Linked DNA regions of Homo sapiens. The protein of the gene in region 1 interacts with the protein of each later gene in a pairwise test. Each region holds a gene or a part of one and is shown in the gene's direction. Other genes may lie near its edges.

Evidence for each region.
Region 2: the proteins of ZNF432 (region 1) and DCDC2 interact in binary tests that used the Homo sapiens proteins (3 or more experiments, as listed by UniProt).

What each region holds. Positions count from the first base shown.
Region 1 is NC_000019.10:52,047,150-52,051,066, reverse strand, and holds the start of ZNF432 (zinc finger protein 432), read left to right. Parts: upstream 1-2,228; 5' UTR 2,229-2,372; intron 2,373-2,426; exon of another isoform or gene 2,427-2,458; intron 2,459-2,505; exon of another isoform or gene 2,506-2,526; intron 2,527-3,917. UniProt on the Homo sapiens protein: Homologous recombination repressor that functions as a poly(ADP-ribose) (PAR) reader regulating DNA damage response and PARP inhibition. Once recruited to DNA lesions via DNA-, in a PAR-dependent mechanism, stimulates PARP1 activity.
Region 2 is NC_000006.12:24,302,209-24,306,125, reverse strand, and holds part of DCDC2 (doublecortin domain-containing protein 2), read left to right. Parts: intron 1-3,917. UniProt on the Homo sapiens protein: Protein that plays a role in the inhibition of canonical Wnt signaling pathway. May be involved in neuronal migration during development of the cerebral neocortex. Involved in the control of ciliogenesis and ciliary length.

The sequences.
Region 1 (3,917 bases):
GAATTTCTTATTTGTGCTTAGAATACACAGTGAAGTAAACAGAAAAAAAGAACAACAACAAAAAAGAATACATAGTGAAGTAATTTGAAAAGATTAAATGTTAAGACAGGCATGGTGGCTTATGCCTGTAATCCTGGCACTTTGGAAGGTCGAGGTGGGAGGATTGCTTGAGCCCAAAAGTTCAAGACCAGCCTGGGCAACATGATGAAACATCATCTCCACAAAACATACAAATATCAGCTCTGTTATATATGAAATAAACAGAGTTTTCCAAAGATCTTTTATAAGATGGGAGAAAGGAGATGAAATAGAAGAGAGATTGACTTGGTCCTTCAGGATTGGAATCTGATAGATGGGACACTAGAGGAAGTTTAATGTAATCTTTTTGGCTATCTAGATCTAGTTTTTAGGCCCTGGCTAGAAGCCAGTTAGTTCCTCTTCTAGAATGGCCAATTAAGTCTACAATGCCGGCCACAGTGAGCTTGTGGTATTTAGCTTGCCCTAATCCTATCCCCATATCCTCAGCTTCAAGGTAGCCTTGAAAAGCAACCACCTTTTAACAACAGTAACAGTGAATATCTGCACCCTAGCAGAATATCTGCACTTGAGGAGGTAGAAATGGCTCTGAAAATGGCAGAAATGGCTCTGAAACACCCAAAAGCCTCCATCCCCACAGAATGTTCACTACTAAGCCTGCTTTGCAGCCTGCTGAATAGGTCTATTCTCATAGTATTTCTCTATTTGGCTTGACTTTATTTATGTGAACACTCCTACCCATAGGGCACTTGTCAAAAAACAATCAGCAGCAATTGTTTAACACTAGAGTGTTTAGGGGAGTGACAGTGTGTGTCTGCGTGATAGATGGAAGTAATAAGAGGGCACAGGGGAAAGGGGCCATACGCATAAGATGATGGAACAGAGAGCCTGGAGGGTGGGGTATAGAGAGTGTAGGGGAAGGGAGAAGGCAGACAGGTAAAAGGAAAAAGAATGTTAAGTGTTGTTCAGCCTCAAGACTGACATGATGAAAGTACCTTTATTGTGGTTTTTGTAAATTAGAATGCATGCTTTATTATTAAAAAAAACACAATTGAAAATGTTAAGGACCTTTTCCTCCTTGCTTCTTATAAGAAACCATCATAAGACATAACTTGTAATAATTCTGTAGAAATATACATATATAAAGATATATGTATATATATATTTTAAAATAGTATGTTTTTATTGCAAAATATTCATTAGTGTCATCATATCATAGCCAGATCTACAACCCCAGAGTAATTCCCATGGTTATGTTACATGGCAAAAAGGACTCTGCATTGTAATTAAGTTTATTAATCAGCTGACTTTAGCATTGGGAGATTATTCTGGATTGCCCAAGCACTTAAGAATAGGAGAAACCGGAGAGATGCAGCAGCAATAGTCAGTGGTTTCAAATATGAAAGGGATTTCACATACTATTGTTGGCTTTAAAGATAGGAAGTCGTGGGGGCAAGGAAACTCTCTAAAGGAAATTAATCTGGCAACAACCTAAATAATTCTAGAAAAGGATTCTTTTCCAGAGTCAAGAACAGAGCCAGGTGGTTCTTCTCTTCTAAAGACATTTCCATGGGCCAGTTCCACCGCAAGCTTCTCAGAGAGAATATGTTCTGCCGTACGGACACCGAACGTCCCCTAAGATGGCCGCCCCCATGATGCTCTCCCCTAAGGGCTCTGGCTCCGTTACCTGCAACGCACCGCTCGCTTATTTTTTGTTCTAGTCTCTCTTGCTTCAGTTTTTATACGGCTTCTAAAACGCTTCGCATTTACAATAGTGACTGAGGTGCCCAGAGGTGACTTTAATTTTCCATTGAGCTGAGACGTCACAGCCATCATAACCGCTAAGAAGGGATGCCGCGCCTTTGTGGTAATAATGGGTTCTGGCCTTTGAGAAGTTTGCGCCGTTCACTGTCCCCTGCGAGGAGAAGACTAACTTATTTCTGTTCCGTGTCTGTTCAGAGGACTTTACCCCCACGCCGTGTCTGCCTGTGTGAACTCAAGCCTCTGATAAGCTCTCCATTTTCTGCCAGGGCTGAGGTGTCTGGAAATCGGACAGTTTAAGAGGCCTCCGTCCACCGCGTCTCCCGGCCGCTGTGCCTTCTGTACGTCACGTACTCAAAGATGGCCGCCCCCAGAGCGGCGAGGCGACGCCGGCGCGGACGCGTCTCCTCCTGAGGAAAAGCCGGAAGGCCGCATTCCGCTCTCCATGGAAACGCGGCTGACCGTCTCTGGAGGTTTAGAGGGGGAGGGAGTTGGGCGAGGGGCCCAGAAGTGGAAGAAGTTTAGGGAAGTAAGTTCAGCTTTTAAGAGGTCGCGGCGATTCCAAGGAGAGTCAGGTCAGTGTGTGGGTCAGGGCGTGGAAACGTGGTGGGAGGGAGCTTTCTGAGGGCGTCTGCGTTGTTGGTGGCGCTATATGGTGGAGGTAGCGCGGGGGTTGGGGGAGGCGGGGGCGGGTGTTTCCTTTTGGAGGGGAGCTGGTAGGAGTCCCTGGTGGGTGTCTGTGATAGGATATCTTTGGGGTCCCTCATGGAGGCTCTGGTGGTCAGTGATTAAAGGCCTGAATAGATCAACGACCAAGAGTACTGAGGTCAGGGATTGTGGTCCTCGCGGGTCACTCCCCAGTGGGGCTCAGTGATTGAGAATCGATGGGGTGGCTTTTGTCAACGAATGTGACTTCTGTTTCACATTCTGGATTAATCTGAGGCTTAGTGATTGATGAATCATTAAGGGAATCCAGTGTACGTGTGTGTCTATTCCAGGTTTTCCTATTTTATCTGGCGGGGTGGTGGTCTTTTGTCTAGAGACAAGTGAAAGCCGAAGTCTTTTCACAAGAGCCCTGGCTGGTTTTGTGTGTGTGTGTGTGTGTGTGTGTGTGTGTGTGTGTGTGTGTGTGTGTGTGTGTTGAGCTCAAACTTTGGCTGGAACAGACTTGATGAACGTTAACATTTCCTAAAAGTTTCAGGTCCGAGTACCTCCTCCACAATGAGTTTTCTAATCCTCTGGCTTTCCACAACAACCCATGCTCTTGAACCTGCAGAAAATGAAAGTTTTTTGGGGGTGAAGGGGGGCGGATGAATAGGCTTTCTATTTAACATTATGTTTTTAAATTACTGCGCACAAATTAACAAGAGCCTATTTTTATCCTTCCTCTTGCAAATGTACTGCATATTTTTATGGGTGTTTCAGGTTTTGTATGTTAGTATATAAAGGCGGCTATTTTCCCAGTATTTATATTTTTGAATTGTTTTCTAAATTTGTATTTATAACTCGTATTCCTTTTCTCTGTCTCCCTCTTTTTTTCTATGTGTTTCTTGTTCTTCATATTGAAGTGTGTATATAAACATTTTTTTTTTTTTTTTGAGATGGAGTCTTGCTTTTGTCGCCCAGGCTTGAGTGCAATGGCTGGGCTCACTGCAAACTTCGCCTCCTGCGTTCAAGCCATTCTCCTGCCTCAGTCTCCGAGTAGCTGGGATTACAGGTGCCTGCCACCATGCCTGGCTAATTTTTTCTATTTTTAGTAGAGACAGTGTTTCACCATGTTGACAAGGCTGGTCTCGAACTCCTGACCTCAGGTGATCTGCCCATCTCGGCCTCCCAAAGTGCTGGGATTACAGGTGTAAGCCATCATGCCTGGCCGTATATAAACACTTTTAAATATATATAAAGACTTTTAAAGAGGTGTGAGAGTAACATTGTATAAAGGAAAAAATGTAGTTTCTCACCATCCATATGGCCTGATTTAAAAAACTGATATGAGAATTACCTACTGCTTAGGCATGATGCTATGTGGATTCTCCTTTGTGACCTCCCCTTTCATCTTCATGTTACTTCCACACTTCACCGAAGAAAGGCATTTGGCCTACATTGAGGGTCTTGTGTTT
Region 2 (3,917 bases), on another chromosome or scaffold:
CTCTAGGTGTCCATCTCCTTGTAACTAGGAGTGTTGATACTTAATATTACCCTCATATTTCAAGTAGCATTTCTTTTCTTTCCTTTCTTTTTTTTTTGAGACAGAGTTTTGCTCTTGTTGCCCAGGCTGAAGTGCAGTGGTGCAATCTTGGCTCACTGCAACCACTGCCTTCTGGGTTCAAGTGATTCTCATCCCTCAGCTTCCAAGTAGTTGGAATTACAGGTGCATACCACCACGCCCAGATAATTTTTGTATTTTTAGTAGAGATGGGGTTTCACCATGTTGGCCATGGCTGGTCTCGAACTCCTGACCTCAGGTGATCCACCCCCCCTTGGCCTCCCAAAGTGCTGGGATTATAGGTGTAAGCCACTGCACCTGGCCTGAAGTGGCATTTATGTTTACAGTGCAAGGGGAAGTGTATGGGCTAATAAGAAAATTGATTTAAAAATTCTAATTTATCATTATGTTCCCCATCATCTAAAGCCATCATGTCCCTAGAGTACCACCAACTGACCAACCCTTTATCCCCGATTAGGGCTCTGGAGAAGTTCCTCTTATACCCAGTTGATTTGGTTTAATTTTTTTGTGTGTTGTTTATTACTTAAAATGCCTGCTAAAAATGCATTTTATATAAAAACTGGTATTGTTTTTAAAAAGTATGAATCATTTTTTATAATTATCTTTTTGTTTCTTTTACAATTCAGGTATACTACTTTGAGTAGTTTTTCAGATTTTTAGTGTATCTGAAAACAGTAATTTAGTTATTTTAATTATGTAACTCAAGGAAATATAACTTTAAGATTAGTTTTCAATTCAACTGGTTAATCATGAACATTTGGGGAACACTTTTGCCATGCCGAATGAGGAAAACAATTATTATTTAAAACAGATGGTTTGATTGAATTCAAGTAATAATTTACATACTCAGAATCAAATTACATAATTATTTCAACAATCATGTATTTTTATGAATTTCAATATATTGTTTATAGCTATCTGTGCTCTAAAGCAAAACAGCATGTTTTAGACAATGCAACAAGATTTTTAAAGTTACTTATTGATATAACATATTAACTTTTGCCTTTAATTCAATAACCCAACAAGATTTTAAACCATCAAGAATGGGTATGGTTAGAGAGTCACATATTGAAGAGATAACAGCAGAGCATCCTCTGTATGTGCTTAGTGCATTGCTAGCTAAGGCACTAAGGAGGAATGCTTAAGCCCAGGAATTTGAGGTTACAGTGAGCTGTGATCGCACCACTGTACTCTAGCCTGGGTGACAGAGCAACACCCTGTCTCTAAAAGGGAAAAAAAATGATATAACCCTCACTTGTAAGTACCCATTTGAAACAATCTCCATGATAAATTATTAAATTAAAAAAGCAAGGTGCTGAAGAATTGGTAAAGCAGGCCATCAGCGCATTTAAAAATTGTATGTATGTGCTATGTACATAAGATAATATGCATGTGTATGTACAGACTATCTTTGAAGGAATATTTCTAACTCTGGTTGCAGCTTGGTGATTAGGGCATAGGAGTGGGAAGGACACTTCTTTTTTACTGTACACCCCCTTTAACCACTTGAATTTTGTTCAGGTGCGTGCATTACCTGCTAAACATTTTATTTTATTTTTTCTTTTGAGACAGAGTCTCGCTTTGTTGCCCAGGCTGGAGTGCAATGGTGCCATCTCAGATCATTGCAACCTCTGCCTCCCGGTTTCAAGCAATTCTCATGCTTCAGCCTCCTGAGTAGCTGGAACTACAGGTGCACACCACCACACTCAGCTAAGTTTTGTATTTTCAGTAGAGATAGGGTTTCACCATGTTGGCCAGGCTGGTCTCCAACTCCTGACCTTAGGAGATCCACCTGCCTCAGCCTCCCAAAGTGTTGGGATTACAGGCGTGAGCCAACACACCCAGCCCTGTTAAACATTTTTTAAAAAGTCAGCGTCACTTAATGTGATGCTAGGTGTTAGTGTAGGGCTAAGAACCTGTGTGCTTAAAATGAAAAAAAGTTACTATGATTAAATTTTAAAAATTGTACTCTAGAGTATGACATTTTAACAAACATTTATTGTGCAACTCGTAGGCATTGCCAAGCACTGTTTTAGGCACTTGAGAGTCACAGAAAAAATATTCATTCTTGTTTCTCTCAGAGATGGCATAATTCTACCAAGAATGGAGTCCCATAAATGATCTAGGGCTACTATTTGATTTTTAAGATAACTAGCAAAGTGCGTAGCAAATAGTAGGGGCTCATAGACATAGGTTCACTAAAACTCTACCACTTATTATGTGTGATTTTAGGCCAATTAATTAATCAAGCTCCAGTTTCTTTAGTAAATTGGGACTATAGTAATGCCACTTCAGGACACTGTTTTGATGATTAGAAAATATATAATGCATATAAATTACTTAGTACGGTGCTTGCCATGAAATATAGCACAACTGTTACCTATTTTTATAAATTAGTGTTGTTTGTAAGTTTTCCTTTCAAATCATGGGGTAAAATCACCTAAAACTCAAAGTGCAAGAATCAATACTATAGTAGCTGTAGCAGTTTGAGACAGAAAGCGCAAGAAGAATGAGCAGGGAATGATTGGTGATAACTGAGCTGGGCCTTGAAGAGCAGATGGAATTCCAGTAGGTGGAGAAATGAGGAGGGCGTTTTAGCCAGAGGGGCAAAGGCAAGGTGTGGATGCAGGGGATGTTTTGGGAATGGAGGGGAGCAGGCTGGTTCAACTACAGTGCGTGACGAGGAGTCTGTGTGGAAGGAGTGTTGGTAGGAGATGAGGGCACCAAGTAAGCGGCACTTGGCCCTGGGAGTTCTTGCAGGCCATGCTTGAAAGTCGGGATTTATCTTCCAGTATTAAAGGTGGACACCAGACGGCAGAAGCCTGAAGAGAGGATAGGGAGGAAGTCGGAATAGGAATAATGAAGAGAGAGATGGCAGCTGTACTTGAGAGCGGCCATAAGGTCAAGGGGAAAATTAAAGGCACCAGGTAGAGATGGAGGTCTTAAATGAATGAACAAGCAGAGACAGCCGGGGACAAAATCAAGATGTGGGGTTAGCTTCCTAAAGGCATATAGTTCCTTCTGAGACAGGCAGAAAAGGAGAAAAATGGTGAGGATCTAGATGAGGTGAGTTGTGGAGGGAAGGAAAGTTGAGGGGCTTCGTGTCTACTGGCTTCTATTTCTTGACATTTGGAATGAAATGACCTGCTGAGAGTGTGTGTGCCTGGAGTGGGATTTTAAGGGTTAGGTGAGGGGTGAGGTGAGATGAGAGGTGAGGATTTGGACTATCCACTGTGGGAAATGGAAAAAAGAACTGTGGGAGGAGTGGAGGGCTGGCTGAGCAAGCTATACTGAGGTCCAGGTGATGGCTTGATGCTGAAAGCTGGTCTCAGGTGAGGGCTGCTCATGGGGCCCCGTGGTTCTCTCTAATAGCAGCTGGGACCCTGGAAGCAAAAAGAGAGGCAAAGGTGATCACATCTACCCAGTGGCAAGGGCTGCGGGAATTGAGGGTGCTGGCGTGAGTGTACCTGATTCAATGGGGGATAGGGGAGAAAGTGAAACCTGGGAAAAATTGCTTGTGTCAGTCTTAAGAGAAAAGGGTGGGGTCAGGCACTTGGTGGGGGCCAAGGATCAGAAAGCAGGTGCATGGGAATGGGAAAGGAAAGATGATGGAACACAGTATGTTGGGCTGCAGGCACAGCACTTCAGAGCTCAAGATTTTATAGGATTATTTTGTTGTTTTTCAGAATGCATTGTTTAAAAATTATCTTAATATTTTCGTAACAGAAAATGATTTCTGTTTTTTTTTTTTTTCCACAGATCATGAGCAGTGTGCCTAGGGCTTAAGGGAAATTTTCCTTTCTTTTCTTGAGAGCTTTGTTAAGGGCTTATAATATTGC